Homo sapiens: one gene and its partners. The protein of the gene in region 3 interacts with the protein of the main gene of each other region in a pairwise test. Each region holds a gene or a part of one and is shown on either strand. Other genes may lie near its edges. The genes, in order: KLHL42, HPCAL4, ANKRD33 and BFSP2.

Evidence for each region.
Region 1: the proteins of ANKRD33 (region 3) and KLHL42 interact in binary tests that used the Homo sapiens proteins (3 or more experiments, as listed by UniProt).
Region 2: the proteins of ANKRD33 (region 3) and HPCAL4 interact in binary tests that used the Homo sapiens proteins (3 or more experiments, as listed by UniProt).
Region 4: the proteins of ANKRD33 (region 3) and BFSP2 interact in binary tests that used the Homo sapiens proteins (3 or more experiments, as listed by UniProt).

The regions. Positions count from the first base shown.
Region 1 is NC_000012.12:27,776,383-27,783,262, forward strand, and holds the start of KLHL42 (kelch-like protein 42), read left to right. Parts: upstream 1-3,850; 5' UTR 3,851-3,948; coding exon 3,949-4,820; intron 4,821-6,880. UniProt on the Homo sapiens protein: Substrate-specific adapter of a BCR (BTB-CUL3-RBX1) E3 ubiquitin-protein ligase complex required for mitotic progression and cytokinesis. The BCR(KLHL42) E3 ubiquitin ligase complex mediates the ubiquitination and subsequent degradation of KATNA1.
Region 2 is NC_000001.11:39,678,142-39,681,461, reverse strand, and holds the end of HPCAL4 (hippocalcin-like protein 4), read left to right. Parts: 3' UTR 1-2,814; downstream 2,815-3,320. UniProt on the Homo sapiens protein: May be involved in the calcium-dependent regulation of rhodopsin phosphorylation.
Region 3 is NC_000012.12:51,883,140-51,891,133, reverse strand, and holds the start of ANKRD33 (photoreceptor ankyrin repeat protein), read right to left. Parts: upstream 3,032-7,994; 5' UTR 2,948-3,031; coding exon 2,803-2,947; coding exon of another isoform or gene 2,776-2,802; intron 2,567-2,775; coding exon 2,316-2,566; intron 2,068-2,315; coding exon 1,938-2,067; intron 1,763-1,937; coding exon 1,652-1,762; coding exon of another isoform or gene 1,554-1,651; exon of another isoform or gene 977-1,553; coding exon of another isoform or gene 975-976; exon of another isoform or gene 708-974; coding exon of another isoform or gene 645-707; exon of another isoform or gene 551-644; coding exon 1-550. UniProt on the Homo sapiens protein: Acts as a transcriptional repressor for CRX-activated photoreceptor gene regulation.
Region 4 is NC_000003.12:133,395,861-133,403,060, reverse strand, and holds the start of BFSP2 (phakinin), read right to left. Parts: upstream 3,006-7,200; 5' UTR 2,978-3,005; coding exon 2,489-2,977; intron 1-2,488. Other genes in the region: TMEM108 (transmembrane protein 108 isoform 1 precursor), read right to left, coding at 7,075-7,197.

The DNA of each region.
Region 1 (6,880 bases), about 24 Mb from region 3:
TTTTTTTCTACTTGCTATTTCAAAAGGGATATTTTCCATAAGTTCTTTAAAAAATGACCTACTTCAGCTGGGTGTGGTGGCTCATACCTGTAATCCCAGCACTCTGGGAGGCTGAGGAGGGAGCATCACTTGCGCCCAGGAGTTCAAGACCAGCCTGGGCAACATGGTGAAACCCCGTCCCCACAGAAAATGTAAGAATTAACCGGGCATAGTGGCGCAGGCCTGTATTCTCAGCTACTTGGGAGGCTGAGGTGGGAGGAGCACTTGAACCTGGGAGGCCTCTGGGAGGAGCACTTGAACCTGGGAGGCTTCATTGAGCCATAATAGTGCCACCACACTCCAGCCTGAATGGCAGAGTGAGACCCTGTCTAAAAAAATAAAAAATAAAAAATAAAAATTACCTAACTCTATTTGACCATTACGCTTCTGTAAAACTGTTTTACAGATAGTACCACAAAACTGGTTTTTATTATTCAATGATCAGTCAATAACAGATCTATAAAATTATACCTCCAGTTATATAAAGCAATATTTTCAGGAAGACTAGGAATAATTTTAGGTCTTTTTAAAATAAAGGAGTTTATATTGCTCTGACTTTGCATTTCTAGCTTAACAGAAAACTTACTGCATAATTTATTAAAATGATTTGATCATTTAAGATGCTCCCAATCCTAAATAATGTTATTATCATATTGGGAGCCAAAAAAACTCACAAGATCAATGCCCAGTATTGTGAGACTAATACCCCAGACTCCCTGTCCAACCTCATCTTACCCTGATAATGTTACTGTGCTTGAATTGCCTTTCTAATGCACATCATTCTTTGAGCATGATTTTTTTGGTCTGTTTTAAAAAGGCAAGAAAATACCAGTCTGAGGCATATCTATGACGGCTGGGAAACAAAAGCATCCATTGGTGAAAGATTCAAGAGACAGAGGAGAGACTGAGAGCCTGTTCTTTGTGGCTGACCCACTGAATCTGGCATTGTTGCCGGTTGAGGCATAGAAAAATCGTAGGTCCAAGTCTCTTTGATACAGGGGACGCATCCCAGCAAAATTCCCCAGCCTGATGCTTAATACTGGATGTTACACTCTACCATCCCAAAGAAGCTGCTAAATGCTTGATCACTCACTCCACCTCCTGCTCCAAAGCTTATCGTGTCTCACTGCACCCTCATAGAGAATGGAAGTGTGAAGGGTTGATGTGAAAATGGAGTTTTATCAGTAACGATTTAAAGGCCAGGTGAAACAAGGTGAAGAGATGAATGTTTTTTATAGAATCCAAGAAAACAACTGAGTAAGTCATAGATCCATTTTTATTTCCTTCATTTTTTTCCAGGGAGGCCAGAATCTACTAGAACATTTTCTATGTCTTTTATTTTTTAGTTCCTTATTCCTAGCATTATTATAAAGAAAATAGGCCAGGCACAGTAGTGCTTTGAGAGACCAAGGCAGCAGGATCACTTGGGGTGGCAGGATCCCTTGGGGCCAGGAGTTTGAGGTCTGTCTTGGGCAAGGTAGCAAGACCCTATCTCTATGGAAAAAAAAAATGCATTTTTTTTTGCTGGGCATGGAGGCTCATGCCTGTAATCCCAGCACTTTGGGAGGCCGAGGTGGGTGGATCACGTGAGGTCGGGAGTTCCAGACCAGCCTGACCAACATGGTGAAACCCCGTCTCTACTAAAAATACAAAATTAGCCGGGTGTGGTGGCTCATGCCTGGAATCCCAGCTACTCCGGAGGCTGAGGCAGGAGAATCACTTGAACCCGGGAGGTGGAGGTTGCAGAAAGCTGAGATCGCAGCATTGCACTCCAGCCTGGGCAACAAGAGGGAAACTCTGTCTCAAAAAAAAAAAAAAATGCATTTTTTTTTCTAAAAAATAAAAAGATAAACCTCCTTTCCCAAGTAATAATAATAAACAAAGTAAAAGATGACAACAACACCTCTCTGTGAAGCAGATAAATTTCGTAGTAAGAACCACAAATGTAACCAAACTATGTTGAAAGGATCTCATGTTTCACCTTTGACTTTCTTTTAGTTCTCTGGTTTTTAACCCTTTCTCCTTCCTAAGGTAAAATGTTAGCATGGTAGGATGTATCTTCTTTAAATAGGGGAAATGTACTTATGAAGAAGATATTATTTAACAATCTGTCATTCAAGAAGAAAGCTGAAGCTTGTAATAATAAAAAAAAAAACCAAACACATATTCTCTCCAAGTTAAGGACTGTTTATCATAGGTGGTTCTCAAATCTTGGTTTGGGGTAAGTTTTCAAGGTTTTCTGTTTTTGTTTTGTAAGATAAGAGTGAACACACCCTCTGCTTCCTCCCAATCCTTCTCCCTTCTCCTACCCAAAGATAATCCAAACAATATATTTCTCCCCCCACCCCCTTCCTGGGATGAATTCATTAGCAAGACAAAAAGTCCTTCCTATTATTATTTGGGGTGGGCCTTCTAATTGCAATGTTCAGTGAGAGAACATAGGAAACAAGTGGTCTCTCTTTTCCGAGACGGCGTCTCGCTCTGTCGCCCAGGCTGGAGTGCAGTGGCGCGATCTCGGCTCACTGCAACCTCCGCCTCCCGGGTTCCAGCAATTCTCCTGCCTCAGCCTCCCGAGTAGCTGGGATCACAGGCGCGTGCCACCACGCCCGGCTAATTTTTGTATTTTTAGTAGAGACGGGGTTTCACCATGTTGGCCATGGTGCTCTCGAACTCCTGACCTCGTGATCTGCCCACCTGGGCTTCCCAAAGTCATGGGATTACAGGCGTGAGCCACCGCGCTCAGCCAAACCGCACGTGTGGTCTCTCTTAATAGTCCTCAGATGATGGGGGCAGGGTAGGTGGAGAAAGGGGGTGACAAGAAAAGCTACTTCTTGCAGACATTTATGAGCCAATTTTGTCAGATCTTTTGCGCCAGGATAACATTCCGTAATGGACTGGACTGAAGTAGAAAAGCAATGGCTCATAGAAAACATGGTTTAAAACCAGAAGCCACGTGATGTAACTTTATTTAGTCGGGCTGCGCTTTCATCTTTCTTTTAATAACTTAGGGAGAATAAGGGGCCCCAGTGGCAAATGCAAGCTCCCCTGCCTCCCAACCCGATTCCTCTGAGAACCTGCTGCCATCTGCCTGGACCTCCTGTAAGATGGCTCCTACGCGACCACGCTACCAGAGAATCAGCTCTACGTGCCACCAACATTGCCACCAACTGTCCATAGATCGCCTGCGTGCCTCAGCCCACTGACACTCGATGCCGGACTGGGCCAGAAGGACGACCCCATATTTGATGCCTTTTTGTCTCCCTGGACCAGAGACTCCATCCTTCCCTTTCCTCCCACGCTCATTTCTTTTTCTTTAGCCCGTGTAAAGCAGCGTGGGAGAGAAAACGAATTTCTTCTCCCTGGGGTACCCCGGAGCATCACTGCAGCCCCCAACAAGCGGCGGAGCCGGCGCGCCCCGGGCGGGCGGAGAGGCTGCGGGGACGCGCGCCCTCCGCCTCCCGCAGCTGCGCGTCCGCAGCCGAGGCGCCCGGGCCCGCAGCTTCCCGGGCCTCCCCGAGAGCCGGATCCAGCCGGCAGGTCAGGCCGGCGGCTGGGGTCCCGCGGGCGGAAGTGAGAAGGGCGGCGGGGGAGGAGGCTGCTGGCTGGGAGCTGGAATTCCCTTCCCGCCTGGCGCCGCCCGGGAGAGCCCGCGCGAGGACGCCCGCCGCGCTCCGCCGGCCCTTTTTTGGCGCTGAGGGAAAGGAGAAGGGCAGGGCCGCCGCCTCGCGGGAGCGGGCCCCGGGAGGAGGGGCCGCCGGAGAGGCCGGGCGAGCGCGGGCGGCCCTCACCTCGCCGCTCCTCCCGGGCCGCCATCCCTCGGCGCCCCGCCCGGAACCGGCGCGCGCGTAGGGGCTGGGAGGCCGGCGCGCAGATCTGGCGGTGAGCGCTGCCGCCCCGGGGCCCCCAGCCATGTCGGCCGAGGAGATGGTGCAGATCCGCCTGGAGGACCGCTGCTACCCGGTGAGCAAGAGGAAGCTCATCGAGCAGAGCGACTACTTCCGCGCCCTCTACCGCTCCGGCATGCGCGAGGCCCTGAGCCAGGAGGCCGGCGGCCCGGAGGTGCAGCAGCTGCGCGGCCTCAGCGCGCCGGGCCTGCGGCTGGTGCTGGACTTCATCAACGCCGGCGGGGCCCGCGAAGGCTGGCTCCTGGGCCCGCGCGGGGAAAAGGGCGGCGGGGTGGACGAGGACGAGGAGATGGATGAGGTGAGCCTGCTGTCCGAGCTGGTGGAGGCGGCCTCCTTCCTGCAGGTCACGTCCCTGCTGCAGCTGCTGCTGTCCCAGGTGCGGCTCAATAACTGCCTGGAGATGTACCGCCTGGCGCAGGTGTACGGGCTGCCCGACCTGCAGGAGGCCTGCCTGCGCTTCATGGTCGTCCACTTCCACGAGGTGCTGTGCAAGCCCCAGTTCCACCTCCTGGGGTCTCCTCCCCAAGCTCCAGGGGATGTCAGCCTGAAGCAGAGGCTGAGGGAGGCCCGGATGACTGGGACTCCTGTCCTCGTGGCCCTCGGGGACTTCCTGGGGGGACCCCTGGCCCCTCACCCCTACCAGGGGGAGCCCCCGTCCATGCTCAGGTACGAGGAGATGACTGAGCGTTGGTTCCCGCTGGCCAACAACCTTCCTCCCGACCTGGTCAATGTCAGGGGCTATGGGTCTGCCATCCTGGACAACTACCTCTTCATAGTGGGCGGGTACAGGATCACTAGCCAGGAGATCTCCGCTGCGCATTCCTACAACCCCAGCACCAACGAGTGGCTCCAGGTGGCCTCCATGAACCAGAAGAGGTAAGCACCCCGGCAGAGTGCTGCTGCCTTCTCATTCATTCACTTGTTCATTAGTTCATTACCCCAGTGTTTACTGAGCCAGTAAATAGGGGAGGGTGTGCTGTGGTGGAAATGACATCTTCAGGAATGTTGTTGGCCTTGGCGCTGGCAAAATTCCCAATGAACTAAGAAATTGCGAAGAGGACGTCCCCAGTGAGGTCAAGAAGTGGAGTGGTTTTTTGGCAGGTATTGTGCCTTTAGGTGAAACTGCTTTCTTTGCCTCTGTTCTTGTGAAAAAAGATGTTGTGGTTTCCTACAAGAATACTTTAAAAGAAAATTGCCCCTTAATTTTTAAAAAATTTGTCTTAGTTTTTAGGATTTGATCCTGATGATAATGATACACTGGACAGTAACCTGTAACACTGACTTTGGGGGATTTTTTTCTGATGTCAGTGACTGTGACAACAGAGTCTTCCACACTGTGATACCCATCATGATCAAGAGATAATCACTGGAAATGTATTAACGTTTGCAATAGGGGTTGCTTTTCTTATTTTTTATCCTCTCTTTTGCTTCCTTCCCTGGACAGCCATCGTCATGACCCACAGCTTGAGCCTGGAAGTGTTCAACTACAGAATTGGAATATTTTCATTTACGCAACCTTCTCCCCCTCCCATCCTGCAAATCTCTCCTGCCTCCAACAAGGGTGACTTGAAGAAAGGAAGAGGAGGAGCTTGAGGAGTGGGATGAGAGGGGAGAAGGGAAAGGAACCAGGGAAGGAATATCAAAACAAGAGCAAAGAGCATATACAGGAAGAGATGGTAGGAAATAAAGATGGTAGCGCCTAGGAGGCCTCAGCGTCATTCAGAAGCAGGGAAAAGAATCAATGTAACTCAAGAAAGGATGAAAATACCCTTTCTTCCCATCCACGTGTTTCCATCTCAATCCTCACAGGGTCCTGGTCCTGAAGTGTGGAGCAAGGAGTTGGGGAGCTCACAGCTGGGCAAAGAAAGTCTTAACAGTAACAGAGAATCCTTTATATATCTGTTTATTTGACTCGAGGGTCCTCCTCGGCCAGGGATTATTTGGGGGAAATAACTGGCTTTATTTCTCCTATAATATGAAATTCATTTTGAAAAGTATGCTTTTTCCCCTGATAATACATAGTTACAGAAAACTGGAAAATGGAAAAGAATGAAGAAGCAAAAAGATGATTATTCCTACCCGCTCTTCCTAGAGGCAGTAACCAGGTTGGCATATTTCCTGCCAGCCCATTTTTAATGCATTATTTACACCATTGAGATGATACCATATTTAAAATTTGGTATCAGAAGTGTTATTTTAAAACAAATTCTATGCACTGTAATTGAAACAACAAAGGAACATTGTGTGGCCATGGGTGGTGGTCTGATTAGGGGTGGGCGGCCCTGAGTTCTCTCACTCCTCTTGCATTCCTCTAGCTACACATCATTTGGTGCTCACCAGGCCATCCTTAGTGCCACAGTTCCTCACACTTCTTTCTTCCCTTCATACATCCTTGGTAGTCTTTGTCTTTTTTTCTAGGAAGGCCCTTTTCATCCCCTTAAAAAAAAAAAAAGCATTCAAGTAATGCATGAATGCATGATTCTTAGAAAAACTGCAAATTACACACAAAACTGTGGAGTAAAAAGAGTAAATGTCTGCCCTCAGGGTACAGAAAAAAAGTGTCAGTGTATCAACAGACTTTTGTTACCTTTAGATATTATAAATGTATAAACATTTATACTGTAAATTATATGTATACTTGTATAAATACAGTTAACCCTTAAACAATGTGGGGGCCAGGGACACCAAACCCTGCACAGTCAAAAATCCCCATATAACTTTTGACTCTCCCAAAAACTTAACTACTGAATAGCCTACTGTTTACCAGATGCCTTACCAATAACATAATCAATTAATACATTTTGTATATGTAGTATATACTTTATTCTAACAATAAAGTATGCTATAGAAAAGAAAATGTTATTAATAAACTAAGGAAGAGAAAATTAAGCGGAAGTGGATCATCCTTATCATCTTGACGCTGAGTAGGCTGAGGA
Region 2 (3,320 bases), on a different chromosome or scaffold from region 3:
CGGTTGGGTGCTGACTTCAGGGACAGGAAAAAGCAAGGTTTGCAAAGAGTGAAACTAGTGTATATTCCGTATCTTGGTAGTTCGTTTCTGGATTGGGTTTAGTTTCAGAACTGGACTTGTTCCTTCACTGCCACAGAATCAGAAAGAGCTAGAAGAAAAGGCTCACCTGGCCACTGTTTAGGCACCCAGACATAATTTATGGACGAAATGCCTAAAAATGTGCCAGGCATGCTCTGTTTGAGAGGCTTTTTCTAACCCCAAATCTTAGATCTGCCAGGTAGTTCAACATCTTCCAAGTGTGCTGGTTCTGCTTTCCAATGCCTGCTTCCCAATTTTGGATCCATGAGCTATACAGCTGCATGCTTTGACTGCCGGAAAAATTAATCTTGCTTCTTCATCAGGTCTTTCTCCTGTACTTGTGATCAGAAATTACCTTTGACGTGCAGTGACAGTTGATTTCCTCTTGAACTGCCGGTGAAAACAGTCTAGTACACAGGTGCTGTCAGCCCAGGGTGGGAGCAGGAAATGATTGCTGAGCCCGGGGCAGGGGAATTGCATCTGCAGGAAAGAGATGCAGCATGCTCCTCACTCCTGAGTGCCCACCTGTCCTGCTTCTCTGCAGGTGAAAACTCTGGGGGATGCTGATCAATAGAGCTTGGTCCCAAGCTCTACTGGGCCCTTGGAGGTAGCAAGGCCACTGGGTTGCTATCCTCTTGCTGGGGATAGCAACCACTGGTTTGCAACCACTGGGTTGCTATCCTTTTGCTATCCTCTTGCTCATGACCAGCCATATGGTGAGGCTGGGGAGTTCACATCCTCAGGCAGGAACTAGCAGTTGTTTATCCAGCAATGCCTCAAGGATGTTGCATTGCTCCCAGGAACTGGCTATTAGGTATGTCTTGTGCGGTCAGTCAGCATCACAGACACATAGATGCTCACCAGCCTGGCTTAGCTGGGACCTAAATCTTCTGGTGAAAAGCTTTTCACTAAGTGAGGTTCCTTCCCTGCAAATGCTGAATCTAGCCTAATTCGCAACCACACAGAATTTCATGGCTTTCAAAGGCTTGCCATGTGCCCCATCTCATTCTATACTCACATCCCATGGAGGTGAGGATTTTCACTTCTTTTCTCTAGACTTGGAAGCTGAGATTCAGAGAGGAAGCATCCCTTGTGCAAGATCACATAGTCAGGAGGTGACACAGGGCTAAGACTTGAACCAAGGCTCTAAGAGGATTTCTTCTTTTCAGAGTCTCTTCCCTGTCCATTTCTGTGACTAAGCTGTGCAGAGGTTGACAGCAGGGCAAGTTACATTGATATTCATCCTTTATAGGCTTCCTGCTAAAAAGCTTCTGAGATTGTGGTCTTCCAAAAAAAATAGGAGCTTGGTTGAAGTCCCCACATTTTCAAGCACTCAGTGTTCTGCCTCTGGCAGCTGTGCTAACAGCTCAGTGCTGTCCTGGGAGTCCTCTGACTCAGAACCCTCGAAGCATCCTGCATTGTCTTTACCCACCATCATCTTCACTAAGAGAAACATGCCTACCCATGAAGGCGTGTTTGATTACTCCAGGCTTCTGGACACACATACCCATGGGTGATTTTTGCTCCTCAGGCCCAATATTCTCAGACAGCCCAGCAGTGTGAACACACAATGCCAGGCCAGGAACTGGGACCACCATCTTGCTGATGGAAGGAACAACAGGTGGCCCAGGACATGCTCCTGCATACTCCTGGGTGTCCCAGGGACTGTGTGCTCAGGAGCACTGTGGTAGAGCACTGGCCCTGCCTTGAGAAGAGACACAGGTCTCCCGTCCCTGCACCAGCTGAGAGAGACTTGCCGCAAAGCACAAGGCTGGCAGAGATTTATGTATGACTTGCACAGACACAAAAATATACAGACAATCAAAACATTGATATATTCAAACTCTCCTTTAAATTCCAATCTTATTGCAACAACTCTGTGAATTGCAAGGTCCCAGAATCTGCCTTCTCACATACTCTACCCTCATTCATCCTTTTGGGCTAATTGATGAGCATCTTATTTCTTATCTCTAAAAATTATCAGCAAAGGCTACTTCAGATGGCCACTTTAGTCCTTTCAGCTGTAGTCAGGATTATTTAACTTACCTGTATATCAAAAGTGAAGAAAAAGTTAGTTCATAAGTAAAGGCACTAAATCCTTTCCTGACAATGGCAGAGTCTCTAGAGGTAGAAATTTGCCTTGCTGCAGAGAGAGAAGGAATGGCGTGGGATGGGGGAAAGAAAAGAAAGAGAAGAAGCTGGGGTCTCCAGGCAGGGTAGTAAGCTGACACTAAATATTTTTTACACAAAAATGTATTGAAGCAACAAATATTTCCTGAAGATCCACCCTGGGTGAGGCTTTGAGCTGACTTTAGAGATCACTGTGGGGTCAAGAATGTCTTACATGTTTTATTCATCATTCTTGAAAAAAGAAATAATTCAAACCTTGGAATTAAAAAGTCAGAAAAATATGGGATTTTCTTTCTGGAATTTTCGAGGTTTTCTTTTTACCTTTGCCAGAGTGTGGGGGCAGGACTGGGCCTGCCAGGGTGTATAGCCCTTCCTGCTTGGTGGAGGCCAGTCAGGCCCAGGGCCTTCTAAGCAGCAGTAGAAAGGAGGCTTGGGGAAGTGGGGGGTCTGGGTAGCAGGGGAAGGAGGCCAGTTCCAGTGTAGCCCCCTATCCCCTCCAGATGTGCTGCTTCTGGCTGTGCACTCAGTGACTGCCCTCACTGCTCAACCCTGTGCTGTGTGGTGTGTTTCTTTCCCCACTGACAGTGAATAAAAGGTGCAACTGTGCTGAGGGCTCCTGCTCTTCCCTACACTGGGACAGGATTGGGGTGGGGAGAAAGGGACAGAAGAGGCCTGGGGAGGCTCACTCAGTGAAGGGCCAAGGTCCTTGTTCTAGCAAGGACTCTGGGAACATGGCATGAGACTCACTTGAGCTAGTTCAAAGAAATGGGGGAGCAGATTATAAGGGACTCTGAAGATGGAAAATCAAGAATGACTGAACCTCAGGCCAAGCGCAGAGGCTCACACCTGTAATCCCAGTACTTTGGGAGGCCAAGGGGCAGATCACAAGGTCGAGATCGAGACCATCCTGGCCAACATACTAATAATACAAAAATTAGCTGGGCATGGTGGTGCACGCCTATAGTCCCAGCTATTCGGGAGGCTGAGGCAGGAAAATTGCTTGAACCCAGGAGGCTGAGGTTGCAGTGAGCAGCGGAGGTTGCAGTGAGCCGAGATCGCACCACTGCACTCCAGCCTGGTGACAGAGCAAGACTCCATCTCAAAAAAAATAA
Region 3 (7,994 bases):
CTGGGGCTGGTGCTATCCCTGGGTTGTAGCCACTGAAGGCACTTGCTCAATATGCCCTGAGGGCTCTGGTAGGGGACGAAGACCCACGGGGACCTCTGGGGACTCCCTGGCGGGGACTGGGGAACCAGGGGAGGGGGCGGGGCAGTACCTAACAGCTCTGGCACGGACTTGCTTCGGGTGCCCAGCGAAGGTGGATGGTCAGGGCACAGAGTGTGGCAGGCAGTGGTGACGAAGGGACTGGCCAGGCTGGTTGTGGCAGTCACAAGGTGGTCCAGAACACCCCCCTCCTGAGGAGACGGGGCAAAGGGGAGGCTCAAGGTAGCCTGCAGCCGTTCTAGGAGTGAAGGGGCAACCTGGGCCTGGGCCTGGGCCTGGGCCACGAGCCCGGACAAGGCCGGCCACTCGGGCTTGTAGTGCTGGCTAAGCTGCTCCACTTGGGGCCGCCTCAGCAGCTGCCGAATCCTCCACACGGTGTCGAAGCTGTCGGTCAGCACTGCCCATTCCAGGGCCGTCTTGCCCCGAACAGGGTCCACTGCTGTCAGGTCAGCACCTGGGAAGGAGCACAGGGGGTGACATGGGGCGGGATAGGGGTTGGTGATTTGTGGAAGGGCAGATTCTTTAGGAGCAAGACTGATGTGGGTTACATTCGAAGCCATAGAGTCCCATCCTGTTGAAGGTGGAATCAGGGAGGCCAGTGTTGCAACCTCCTGTTTAAGAGAGATTAAGACACTTAGGTCCAGAGAGGGGAAAAGACTTCAGAGAGACCTATTGTGGGGCTCCACCTAGGGCAGAATAGGGATCTCCTCAATCCAAGGAGCTGAGCAGAGCAGCGGTGCAGGCTGCCCAGGACAGGCAGAGGCCTGAGCTGCACCCTCTGGGGCAGGTGGGTGGGGATGATCGGCTGGTTCCCTCTCCTGGTTCTTCTCTTCTCACCATCTCCCTCTCCCATCTTGGGGTTGTGGGAGGAGCAGTCACTCTAAGACAAAAGAAAGGGTGTAGAGCGCCCTCCTTTTTCATTCACTCCTTTTTCACTCCAAACCCAGTGGGGTGTGTGGGGAAGGGAAAAATGGAGGCAGGGGTCCCCCAGAGTGACCAGCAGAGGGCAGCCCCACTGCGGGGAAGAAGGGCCCCCAAACAACTCCATGGACAATGTGGACTTCACCGCACCTCCCCCTGAACGACCCCACAGAGCCACAGGCCTCAACGACACTTCCCTGGATCCCCTGGAAGCCTGGCTTGTCAGAGTTGGAGGTAGTCCCAGGGAAAGCTAACACCCTCACAATACTGGTGAGGCCCAAAGAGGGAAGCCACTCAGCTAGGAACAGGGGCTGGTTCCAGATGCCAGCCTTTTTTCGTGTTAGATTTTCCAGCTGGGCTAGGTTCCCCTCCCACACTTTCCTTCCTGGGACCTCCACACACAATGTCTGAGCTATCAATAGCAGGACTTGGTTGATTGTACGAAGCCCAAATCATGTGCCCCCCCCTCCAGGAAGGTGAACTAGATTGATCCCCCATCTCCACCTCTCTCCTTTCTGCAAATAATCACAGCTGACTTAGTGTCTGGTGGGAAGGCTTGGAGGAGGGACTGGAGGCCACACACCCCGGTCCAGGCCCCGCACACCTGCCATGAGGAGGGTGGCCACGCACTCACAGCGGTTCCGCATGGCAGCCTTCATTAACGCCGTGAGCCCCCGCTGGTCCCGGCGTTCCAGGTCCAGGCCCACATAGTAGTTGAGCAGGAGACTCACTAGAGGCACGTGGCCTGCAGGGCAGCAAGGGTAAGCTTGGTCCCCAGGAAAGGGGGTGATGAAGCTCCCAAACCGCCCTCCACCCAGCATGACAGAGTCTGGTGTAGAACACCGTGCAACAAGGGTGGGGCTGAGGCCCTGTCTGCATCAAAAGGGGGCTGTCGGAAGTGGGGTGCAGCAGCCTCACACCTGCTTGGGCAGCCAACATGAGGGCCGTGTCCCCTCCTTTGTCCTGCTGGTTCACATCAAGGAAAGGACAGTGGCTGAGCAGGGCCACAACACTCTGGAAGCCGTGGTAGCATGCGACCATGAGGCCTGTCTGAGGGAGGGGCAGCTCAGATCCCCTGCTTTCCCCCTGGGCCACTCCAGGGCCCCTTGCACCCTCTAAACCCATATCTGTCCCAGAGCCTGCCCCAAACCCCGTGAAGACCCGCCCTTAACCATTCCCTTCCTCCTTAGGACTGCAGGAGGTATTGCCCCTGAACCCCTCTCAGGGAGCCAGGCCAGGACGGTGTGGTGGGGATGCAAAGATGCCCCCAGCTGTTCTGGGAAGCCAGGACATCTCACCCTCCCATTGCTGTCCACCTGGGTGGCCTCCTCTGGGGAGACCCCACCATCCAGTATGGCTTGGAGCTGGGTGGGATCATTGTGGACACAGGCCCAATACAGGGCCCCCAGCCTGCAGCCTGGGGTGGGGGTCTCCTTGCCCGGGCAGGGCAGTGCCTCAGACATGTCCAGCCGTCTCCTGTGCAATGCCAGCTCTTCCTCTTCCAGGCAGGGAACCAGAAGGTGAGTCCCTTTTCTCATGCAGCTGGCATCTAAAACACAGAATGGAGAGGAGTAGTGAGTGTCTCCCTGGATCCTAGGGAGGGGACCCAGCAGCTGCGAAGTGCACAGCCCTTGCCCCAGGGAAAACATTTATCCCAGCAGGGGTCTCGCCCCATCCACCCTGAGAAAGGACAAGCGCTGGGTCAGGAGCCCTAAGCAAGCAGGGTTCACTCTAGGTCAGCACCCCAGTGAGACTCACGGAGAGAGGGTCGTCGTTTTTTCTTACTTGGGGTTCGTAGGGTATCTATGAGGCAGTCAACGCGGGGCACAGCCCAGGCTCCGCGGAGCACAATCACTGGGTCTCCGAATGCCTCCAGGTGGACTATCCCTCCCCAGGAAGCAACGCAGGTAACAGATGGCTGGACTTTCATAAAGAGCTGCTGCAAACACCTCGGGGCTGAGCCGGATCAAGCAGCTGGGACTGGGGCCCCATGCGGGGCGGGTGGTCACGTCTCAGGAGCGGACTCAGACCAGCCCCAAGATCCTCCGGGTGGGCGGGGCCTGAGCCGGGCAGCTCCTCCCCGCCGGGGCGGGCTCACAAAGACGACTCCTCCTGACGGACGCGCCCACTCTCAGCCTTGGGGACGCCGGCGGAGATGCTGCCTCGTGGGGTCTTGGCCCAACTTTTTAGGCCCAGCCTAAAGCCCCTCCTAATTGGGTGGAGCGCGACTTGCTGAAGGGGTGGTTGCGGGAGAGGGGGTGAGTGAATGCAGGTATCTCATTAAATAGGGTTGGTACTCTCAGAATGACCCTGGGGTGGGGTCTCCAGGGGGGTCACCTGAACTTATTTTTTGAGGTTCTGGGGAAATAAAAACATAATTGTCAAATTATGAGTATAGAGCTGGGCCCGGTGGCTCACGTCTGTTATCCCAGCGACTCAGGAGGCTGAGGTGGGAGGATCGCTTGAGCCCGGGAGGTCGAGGCTGCAATGAACCGATGTCGCGCCACTGAACTCTAGCCTGGGCAACAGAGGGAGACCTCCTTTTAAAAAAAAATTGTGGCCAGGCGGGGTGGCTCACGCCTGTAATCCCAGCACTTTGAGATTCCAAGACGGGTGGATTATCTGAGGTCAGGAGTTCAAGAACAGCCTGGCTAACATGGCAAAACCCTGTCTCTACTAAAAATACAAAAATTAGCTGGGCTTGGTGGTGGGCGCCTGTAATCCCAGCTACTCAGGAGGCTGAGGCAGGAGAATCACTTGAACCCGGGAGGCAGAGGTTGCAGTAAGCCGGGATCGCACCATTGCTCTCCAGCCTAGGCAACAAGAGCGAAACTCCTTCTCAAAAAACAAAACAAACAAACAAACGAAATTGTGAGTACCGACATTATGTGTCTAGTGCAGGTGGGCAGTCGGGGCACAAAGTGCGGCAGGCAGTAGTGAGGGAGGGATTGGCCAGAAATTATGATGTATGAAATTTAATAGATTAGTTTCAGTGTGATAAATTAAATATGAAATATTTAAATTAAATGATCTGTTAATATAATGATAAATTGTTATCAAAATATTCTTTAATATTTATATTACATATTAAGCTTGATGGATTGGTCTTGGTCCACAGATGTAGAAAATGGAGCCAATGATATTCCCCCATTGGTATCACTCCCATCATCAGACTGTACAAGACCTCTCTCTTGTTTTGTTTTACTTTCTTTAGTTTCTCTCTTTCACCCTTAATCCCCACATCCCATTCTCCTCCACCCTTTACCAACTGGCACTTGTATATCCTTGAAAATGTACATTTCATTGAAAAAGATAGTACTGATTTGTGTGTTTTTATTTTATTTTTTTCTTTTTAGAAACAGGGTCTTACTCTGTCACCTGGGCTGGAGTGGAGTGGCATGATCATAGCTTACTGCAGCCTCAAACTCCTGGGCTTAAGTGATTCTCCCACCTCAGCCTCCCGAGAAGCTACGAGCTTCTCGGAGGCACACAGGTGTGTGCCACCGCGCCTGTCTAACTTTTTTATGTAGAGATGGGGATCTCACTTTGTTGCCCAGGCTGGTCTCAAACTCCTGGCATCAAGTGATCCTCCTGTCTTGGCATCCCACAGTGCTGGGATTGCAGGCATGAGCCTCCATGCTCTGCTTGTATGTGTTTTTAACTAACATGTTATGAATTGTGCTATAGAACTTATTCTGTTAGTTTTTTCTTTTTCACTTAAGCTCCATCCTTATTGCTTTAGGTGCAGTGTATCAGTTGGATGTGCATTTGGTTTTTAGTAACCAAAAAGCTGAATGGTATGTTGTCCATAATAGACGGGCTCCTCAACATTAATCTAAAACTGCTTTCAGTGTTTCTTCTGCGCTGCAGAAGTTGGAAAGCTAAAACAACCCTTCCCAGATTCCCTTGAGCTATGACTCTGTGGTTTGCGTCCTGCTCTTGTGCAAGATATAAATTTGGAACAGAGCTACGTAGCATGGGACATCCGTTTTGCTGTCACAGGTCATGGCAGCAGCAGCAAGGCTCTGGTGAGCAGCTTCCTGATTCATCAGCTTCCTGTAGTAGTGACTGTTGTTTTCTCAATCACAGGCAGAGGTCATGTGACTCTCAAAGCTGGGGGTTGTTCCTGGACCTAAGCCTGCTTCTCCATCCCTTTCTGTTTAAACTGATCAGATTTCTTTCTTTCTTTCTTTCTTTCTTTCTTTTTTTTTTTTTTTTGAGACAGAGTTTCACTCTTGTTGCCCAGGCTGGAGTGCAATGGCGCGATCTCGGCTCACCACAACCTCCGCTTCACGGGTTCAAGTGATTCTCCTGCCTCAGCCTCCCCAGTAGCTGGGATTACAAGTATGTGCCACCACCCCGGCTAATTTTGTATTTTTAGTAGAGACGGGGTTTCTCCATGTTGGTCAGGCAGGTCTTGAACTCCTGACCTCAGTTGATCAGCCCACCTCGGCCCCCTAAAGTGCCGGGATTATAGGCGTGAGCCACTGCACCAGGTCCAGATTTATTTCTGTTGTCTGCAATTGAACTCTGACACATGTAGCTTAAACAAAGAGGTGCTTGTTTTTAATACATGATAAAAAGTTCAGGAATAGGAAACTGTTGATGTTGGTTAAGAAACTTGTCAGGGCCTTCTCTGGGATTCTCTTGACTTTTCCTCCTTGGCACAAGATGGCTGCTAAACCTCTAGCCATCACAGCAAAATGGGATAGATGCACCCTATGGAATTCTATACAGCAGTTAGAAAAAAATCTATCAGATGATAAACCAGACATCTCTGATTATCTAACACAATCCCTGTTCATAACTCCCCTTCTCTCTAGTTACCTTTCAGTTAGGTGTTATCATGTAATGCAGTTTTGGCCAATGAAATGCAAACAGAAGTCTGATGGATAGGGATTCTAGGAAAAAAGTTCATGCTGTTGTTGTAAATAAATTTTCAATGCTGCAAGGAAATAGCACTCGAACATAAATTTAATTTTCTCAGCATGGCAATTTTTACTTCTATAGAAGGGTGCGAGTCGTGAATGGAACAATGGCAAGAGCACACCTGGACAGGAGAGGAGAAGGAGTTCTTATTCCTGACACACGGCCCTACTGCTGTGGCGTTCCCCTATTGGCTAGGGTTGGACCGCACAGCCTAAGCTAATTCCGATTGGCTATTTTAAAGAGAGCAGGGATATGAGTTAGAGTGGCGGGGTGGGTAGTTTGGCGGGAAGGACAGTTAGGAACAGGGAACTAAAGGTGACTTAGATCAGAGCAGGTGACCAGGGTGACTCAGGTCAAAGCAGGTGACTGGGATGACTCAGGTCAAAGCAGATAAACGGGATGAGTCAGGATGGAGCAGCTGACCAGAGAACAGATGTGAACTACTGATTAGGACTAGAGGGAAAGTTGTTTACTAAAACCAGGAGCAAGGGAACGGAAGAGAACCAGGAAGCTAAACTTTAAAATGGATAATCAAAGAATAAGAGAGCTGAACATACTGACATACTGATTCTTTGAAGAGAAACTTGGGGTTCACTATAATTAACACTGTCTTGATGAAAGATGTAGAGTGCACCACTTTTTTTCTTTCTTTCTTCCCTCTTTCTTCCCTCTTTCTTCCTGCTTATAGAATTCCATAGTGTGCATCCACCTCATTTAGCCTATCCCTTCTTCCTGCAATAGATGCTTAGGTTGCCTCCAACTTCCTGTCACTATAAATAATGCCAAAGTGAACACCCTCATACGTATCTAGTTGTGGACCCATCGGGGTCTCTGAGATCACTAGATCACAGGGCACATACACACTTACTGAGTGGATACTCAGGTTGCACTCTGTTTCACCATGTGTGCCTACCAGCAGTGCATAAGAGTCTCCCTACGTCTTAGACAACACATGTCATTATTCAGCCTTCTAATGTTTGTCAATCTGATAGAACTATAAAGCGATATTGCTATTTTACATTGAATTTTTCTGATTATCAACAAGGTGAGCATCTCTCCACATGCCCTGCTGGCCAATCTTGTTTTCCCTCCTGTGAATTGACTGTTCATGGCCTTTGCTCAGTATTCTATTGAATTTTCCTATCCTTTTCTTATTGATTTTTCAGGAATTCTTTTAATATTCTAGATAATAAAGCCATTGTCAGATGGGTTATAGATGAGGCAACTGTACTATATAAACCCTTCTGTTAGCTTTATCTATGGTGACCTTCATTGAAATAGCTCCTGAATTTTGATATGGTTAAATTCACCAGAATTTCTCCTTATACTTTGTGTTCAGGGTCTTGTTTACTAAGAATTTTCTACTCCAAGATCACAAAGATCTTCATTTCTTTTATTAATCTTGCAGTTTTATTTTTAATATTTAGTCTTTAATTCATCTGGAATTCACTTTTATAATATTGAAGAAATAATCTGTTATAGACTAAATTGTGTCTCCCTCAACCAACCCCAATTCATATATTGAAGCCCTGACACCAAAAATGACTGTGTTTGGAGACAGGGCCTTTAAGGAGGTAATTAAGGTTAAATGAAGTTATTAGGGCAGGATAGGGCCCTAATCCAATAGAACTGTTGTCCTTATAAGAAGAGGAAGAGACACCAGAACTCTCTCTCTCTGTGCCTGCACAAGAAAAGGACACGTGAGGACACAGTCAGAAGGTACCATCTACAAGCCAAGGAGAGAGGCCTCTCTGGAGACCAATCCTGCTGACACCTTGATTTTGGATTTCTAGCTTCCAGAACTGTGAGAAAATACATTTCTGTTGTGTAACCCATCCAGCCTGTGTATTTTGTTAAAGCAACCTGAACAGACTAATAAAGGATCCAACCTTATTTTTTTCTCCATTTAGCAAGATAACTCCATCTATTAAACAATTCTCTCTCCCTTGATTTGTGGTGTCGTTTTTATCACATGTAAACGTTGAGTTCTCTTTTATGTTTTATGCTATGTTTCAGTTATCTTATAGCATCTTATGAGGGCATTCCTG
Region 4 (7,200 bases), on a different chromosome or scaffold from region 3:
TTCACTGAAAAAATCAGGAGCATTTCTCAATTATGGAGTTTTCTTTTGTTCTTCTTGATGGAATAGAGTTTAATATGGCTGAAAGGCTGGGCTGTGCAATATAGAAAAAGTAACTCCAGGCTGGGCATGGTGACTCACTCCTGTAATCCTAGCACTCTGGGAGGCAGAGGCGGGTGGATCACCTGAGGTCAGGAGATCAAGACCAGCCTGGCCAACATGGTGAAACCCCATCTCCATTAAAAATGCAAAAAAATTAGCTGGGCGTGGTGGCGTGCACCTGTAATCCCAGCTACTCAGGACGCTGAGGCAGGAGAATTGCTTGAACCCGGGAGGTGGAGGTTACAGTGAGTTGAGATCGCACCACTGCACTCCAGCCTGGGTGACAGAATGAGACTCCATCTCAAAAAAAAAAAAAAAGAAATAATAACTCCATTTTATCAATTGGTCTTACTCTATCTTCAAGTCCATGATTTTTTAAAAAAGAAGAAAAAGAGAACTTTATTCATACCCAGGCCCTCATTTATAGTCACTTAAGAGGAAAGTGAGCCCATGTGGGATCCTGACCCTCAACTACAGAGGTCGCATGTCTTGGTGTGTGGCTGTGGTGCTCTCACAGGATTTTAGAGCTTCCTAGTCTGTACTCTACCTGTAAGCAGGAGCCAGGCTCTTATTTGTCTACAGATTTGCTGGAATATGTAAGCATTGTTATACCCATTTTGTAGATAATGAAACTGAGGCCCAGAGAAGTTAGTAAGTTGCAAAGGCTCTTGTAGCTATCTGGAGCCAGAACAAGTCAGTATCTATTGAGTATAAACTAAGTTTTGTGGCCCTACTTTTTAACCTAGCCATTGGGATACCTGATTTCTCCTGACAAGTCTGTGTGGCATCTGATTGCAAGCGATTGTCCAGCAGATGCTGACATATTGGAGTATCTAGGGATGTTCTGGTGGTTGTTATGGCACAATATTTGGAATAAGGACAGTTGTGAAGAATCCTGGAGGAATGGCTGCCTCTTAGATTTGACAGGCGTTAAGGCCCTGGACTGTTCTAAGATGGCTCTCCCTTGCAGCCCAGATGGATGCAAGCAGAACAGCAGCACCAGGGGGAGAGCCTGAGAGGATGGTGCTGTTCATCATGCACTCTGTGCTGTCAGTGGGCACTGACAGCAGTGCAGGAGAAGCATCCTGGGATGAAGTGGGAGGCAGGAGGGGCAAATGGGGAGTCCCTGTGTGCAACTGCTTAGCTTCCCCCAGCTATACACAAATAAAATTTTGTGACCTCCTCTTGGGAGGCTGCATACTGGACTCCAGGGGGCCAAGGGTCTGAGTTGGCAGTCCCTGGTGGGTTAGAGACTGATTTTGCTCAGAGGGATCCCAAGGCCAGCATCTGGAGAGAAAGAGGAGGAGGAGAGGTGAAGCCAGCTATCCACAGAGAGACCAGCTGAGAGGTGTAATGCTGGCTGGAGTCCCAGCATTAGAACTACAGGCTGCAGGCCAGACATGATGGATGTGCTCCAGACTCCGCAGAAATCACCCTGGAGAGTGGGAAAAGCAGGGCTGACCAAGCAAGGGAGAAAGATGAAACCTCTGCATCCTTCCCTGTCCAATAAGATAGCCATTAGCTACCTGTGGCTGTTTACATTTAAATTAATGAAAATTAGATAAAATAAAAATGCAATTCCTCAGTCTCATTAGCCACATTTCAAGTGCTTGATAGCCATATATGGCTAGTGGCTGCCAGATTGGACAGTGCAGATATAAGATATTAATATTTCCATCACGCAGAAAGCTCTACTTGAATGTAAATTACCTCATTAATATATTTTGTATTGATTACATGTTGAAATAACATTCTGGACATATAGAGTTAAATAAGCTATAATATTAACTTCACCTGCTTCTTTTTACGTGTTTTACTGTGGGTAATAGAAACTTGTCAATTACCAATGTAGTTCATATTTCTATTGAACAGCGTGGTTGTAGGTGGATACAGGAACACACCTCCATTTATTCATTGTTCTTAACACCTCATCCATCCAATGGTATTTGATTGGATAATAGCTGTAAAAATCCCTTCTCAACAGTAAAGGTGACTGAGGCAGCCCCAGGGTAATGGGGCAAATGCAACTTTGGAGGCACAAAAATTCAGGTTCAAATCTCATCTCCATCCCTCTACTAGCTTTGAAGTCTTGGGCAAATTACATGCCTCAGTTTCTCATCTGAAAAATGCAATCAGTGAATGATCCACTGCATAGCATTTCTTTGAAGTTTAAAGAAGACAGTGGGTAGTGCACGTATGGGGGCTAGCGTGGGCTCCTAGTAAACCTCGGTAAAAGGTAGCATTGTTGTTATCATTACCATTTTAAGTGTGAAAGTGTAGGGGATTATGGTCAGTTTCTCTGGCCTCAGCCTACTCACAACCCTACCCGCTGCCTTCAGCAGCCCCTCCCAGCCCTCTGCAAAGCCCTTGGCACAGCCTGGACACTTACCTGCTGGCAGCTGCTGGCCCAGGAAGCCCGTAGGGCACCCCAGTTTCCCGAGCGTGTGGCTTTGCTCTCCAGGTGCATCCGCAGTTGTGTTTCCAGCTCCTGACTGACTTGCTCAAGGGCGTGCACTTTGGCCATATATTCCACCAGGCAGCCCCCTAGGTCCTCAACAGCACCATGGTCCCTCTCCAAACCTGGAGCCGGCACGGTGGCCAGGCCTGAGCTCCGCAGGCCCTGAAGGAAGACACTGCTGATGCCGAGGGCCCGGCGGGTCACACGGGCACCCAAGCCACCTATGCACCCACTGGGTGCTGTTCCTACATAGACCCCGGGTGCTCGGACAAGGCCACTCATGGCATTGGTCCTGGAGGCTGGGGGGCTCTCCAGGGAGGATGATGACCGTGGCCCCCTGAAGGACGCCCTGCGCCTCTGGAGGGGCATGCTGGAGCTGGCACTGGTGGGCAAGTCCACTACCACTCGCCTCTCACTCATCACCCCTTCTGCCTCTGTGGTGCCCAGTGGGTTTACAGAGTCCAGTGGCTTTTGGTTTACAGCCCCAGCATCCCTGTGGCCTGGTCACGGGCCTCTCTGGAATCTCCCCTATCCCTGGGGCTGCTTTGTCTGCTGTCTTCCATGAGTTTCCATCATTCACTGAGCTGAAAGAGAAATGGGCACTGCCCAGGGCTGTGTGCAGAGAGGCACTCATGCATTCTTTGATGCAGGGTCATGTGCCCAACCTCCCAGATTATTCTGCTGGTGGTGGGGGAGGCTGGATCAGTGCAGGCTGTGGAGGTAGACCATTTGGGTTTGTGCATTTTACTACCTAAGTGGGCAAGGCAGGCATCAAGCAACCCCATTTTACAGATGAGTAAACTGAGGCTCAAGGACCTCAGATGACAAGTGTACTGATCACTTGCCCCAGACCTCAGATTACAAGCTAGGACTCAATCTAGCTATTTCAGGGCTTTCTACATCCCTATGTGTGCTGGCACATGTGAATGTGAACACATGTCCACACAGGCAATAGAGGATGAAAAATGGCAGGAGGCAGCTCCAGGGACCCAAGAGAAAAGACTTGCCTATGGTTTCCTCTCTCAGTCCTGGCAGCAGCTTCAGGTCCTTCCCTCACCTCTCTCCTTTCCTCCTCATCTCTGTCCTCTAATGCTCTGCTGTTCATCAGCTGCTTGCTGTTGGCCAGGATGCTTCCTCCCTCTGGACCTCACTGTCTGAACATTGGCTTGGGCCTTTAACTCTCTGATGCACCAGATAAGGACCTTGGGCAAATTCAGATCCCACACATGTTCCGGCCATTCCCTACACCTCTGCTTCTCCATCTGTTGGAAAACTGAGAAATAAAAACAACAACGAGGGTGTTTTCTGGTAAGCCTCTCCAAGGGTGCCCCAAGTTAGGATATGATGACACCCCTGGGTTTTAATTATTGACCTTGGCATCCACTAAGCCACCAAGGGTCACACCTCAATCACTTCTCTAGGATCAGAAAGGTTCCCCCAGTTACAGGATGACAACATGGACCTAAAAACCTCTGTACATAAGTTTTACCCTGGAGAAACCAGGTCACCAAACCCCAGAGCTGGATACTTTTCCAGATGCTGTAATGTAGGAATGTACCTCAGGTGAGAGAAGGAGAAGGGAGTCAATCTCTAGTGAGTAGCAGATCCAGCCTGGTGTGTGCATGAATCCTATGGTTTATTTCGTGGAATTCTCAACTCAACCTCAGGAGGAAGGAGGTCCAGGGTTGACAGGTACTGCCATATGGGCTGTGTACCTCACAGCTCTAAAATGACATGTCCTACAGTTGGCCACTGTCCTCTTATGTGAGGAGGACCCCGAGAGCTGCAATGACTTGCCCAAGGTTCTATGTCCAGAAAGTAGCAGAGCTGGGGGCAGACAACCTCTTCCAAACTCTGGGCCACTGACTTACTTAGGAGCCTCCCTGTTGCCCACCACCCAGAGAGCAGAGTACCTACCTGAGGTCACGCAGGTAGAGGTAAAAAACCTGGTCGCCTACTAGAGGACCCTGTGTGCACTTCCTTCCTACTGACCAGGACACTCCAACCCTTCCTTTCTTTATTGTCTTCCACTTTGTCTCTCTGAGATGGCCTGGGAGGTATTTTATAAATATCAGTGTTGGCTATTTGATGAACAGATGAAAGAACCAATTGGATTAAGTAAAGGCCAGTAGTGTCCTTGTTTATTCAGATGTAGCATTAATGCTGTGAACACCACCCCTGATGCACCCAGAAGGGGCATGCGAGCCTGTGTTACAGTAACAGCCTCCTATACGGATGACACTGACTTGGTTCTGAGGATCTGCATTATTGTGAATTCCAAGATGTATTGTCCAAGGCTGAATGAAAAGTTCAGGCTACTGATTAAGTTGTGCACAAATGTGTCATGTTTAGGCATTGTTATTCTCTACAGAATGGTAACACTCAATGGCCAGGTTAACTTCAGACTTCTCCGGACCAAAGATATTTACTATATAAATCCACTCAGCCCTGGAGACAGGGAGAAAGAGGGGGGGATGTACTTTGACACCACTGTCTCCAAAGACCTGATGAAAGATGAGTCTGTTTTGGAGAAACTGCAAACATGTTCAAAAAGATTTATTTTATCAAATGATAAACTGCTAATCCTATTAGCTCATCACATACATAAAACTCAACTTACTGTTAAATCAGATTAAAAAATACAGATGGATATAAAGTGGTGTTGGTACTGCTTAAGGAAGACTTAGAGCTTATCTTGAAAAGAATGCAAAATGTATTAGCAACAGAATCCTCTGGCTAATAAAATAAGTTTATTTATATATACATGGTAGCTGAAATCTGTGGATAAGGAAAAATAAGTCATACATCCACATATGTATATATAACATATGTATCTTTGATTACATATATTATATATAAATTTTACTTTACAAACAGATTTTTCTCTGTATACTTACACACATTGGTATATTAAATGTAACAGTTAACAGAAATATTATGGTAAGGTTAAAAAGGTAAGACAACAACACGCTAGAAAATTAAACTTAGAGAAACATTTAGTTGCTTCTTTGTGGGTTGAAGAGTCTTTGAAGAGAGACAACAACCGAACTCATGTGAAGGAGGTTCATACAACATTGAGAACACACTTTTGAAGGCCATCTTTTTTTTTTTTTTAAGGAAAATGCAGAAAGAAAAAAGTCATGATAGACTACAGCAACAACACAAACATATGACCCAATATTCAAGTTCAATTCCCAATCTGACTATAAGAGCATCTATATTCAAAATATACTATCAAACTATTTTTCTTTTAGAGAAAGGAAGTGTCAAAGCAGTAATCATCTCTCTCAGCCACAATCAGGAAAAAATAGAGAAGCGGCCACCTCTGGAAGCCCCTTGGGCGTCTCTGAGGGTCTGACGTTGTTGGCCGTGCTGGACACAGCACGGGGAGGCAGCCAGCCGGCCGGGAACAAGGGGAGCAGTGGAAGCTGAGAGCTGGATGGCAAGTCCACCGGCTGGTGCTGCGAGCAGGTTTGCAGTGCCAAGTAGGAGTATAATGATGTCTTCTCCCAAATGATTTGTTTGGGCAATCTTTTTTTTCTTTTTTAAAGATTGCAGGAGGAAGGTTTCAAAAATTATCGCTCTACTACCTCAAAGCTTCTTAGATAAACATGTTCCTCAGGGGCACGATACCATGGCCTTTTGAGAAAACAAAGCTGAACCCCAATAAACATTTGATCCTTGAAGAAGGAAGGGCAAGCATTTTAAAGCTCCAGGGCCGGGATCTGCATCTAAACCCTCTCCAAGAGAAAGGCACGGGTGTTTAATGCAGATGTGGGTGTTGGAGGGGATACAGGAATGGGCATAAAGGGAGCATTTTCCCACCAGGGAAAGGCAGTCCTGTTGTTAGCAGTGGAAGTAATGTTAGGGGAATATGGCCTTGGGATGCCTTGATGTCCTCCATGGATTCCTGAGGGCTCCATGCTCCTGCCTGCCATCCACAACTTGGATGGAATTAAACATGACATCCAATGGTGCCGTCATAAGGCTCCAGGGTACTCATCCTCAGAGGTGATGAGATGTTCCCTTTTCCTTCTCTGTGCATGAGTCTGCCGTCTTCCCCTGAGGCGGTCCAGTTCCCTTTACAGGTGTGCGTATGAGAAGGGAGGAAATGGGGTCACACCAAATCAAGAGGAACCAGAGCTTTAAGAATCACTCAAAGAATCGTGCGCTTGCACTGTAACATTCAGCTTCTACAGGAGGTCAGTCTCTTACCTCACCTGACCAGGGTTCCTGGGATCCCCAGGTGCTCAAGAATAGTTATTAAGAGAAGCAATCAATGCAACTGCTTTGCTTAGAAATACCTTTATTTTATAAAGCCACAGATCATTCTGTAAAGTTTTTTTTTTTTTTAAACCACACTTGTAAAAAAGATGTTGACAATTCATAGGAAAAAAAGCTGAAAATGTTTCTCATTAAGTCAGGGTTACACAAAGGTTATATTTATAATATATGTATTTGTATATTTATAATTTAGAGACGAAAAATACGGAATGGCAAAGTGATGCCTGCTGTAGTTAGATCTCAGATACTTGATCGTTTCCCACAAACAGTGTTTCTTGACAGAAGGGGTTAACAAGGACCATCCCAGTGTCTCTATAGTCGCCATTGGCTGGGGAGCGGGGCTCTGAGAGCTGGTCCTG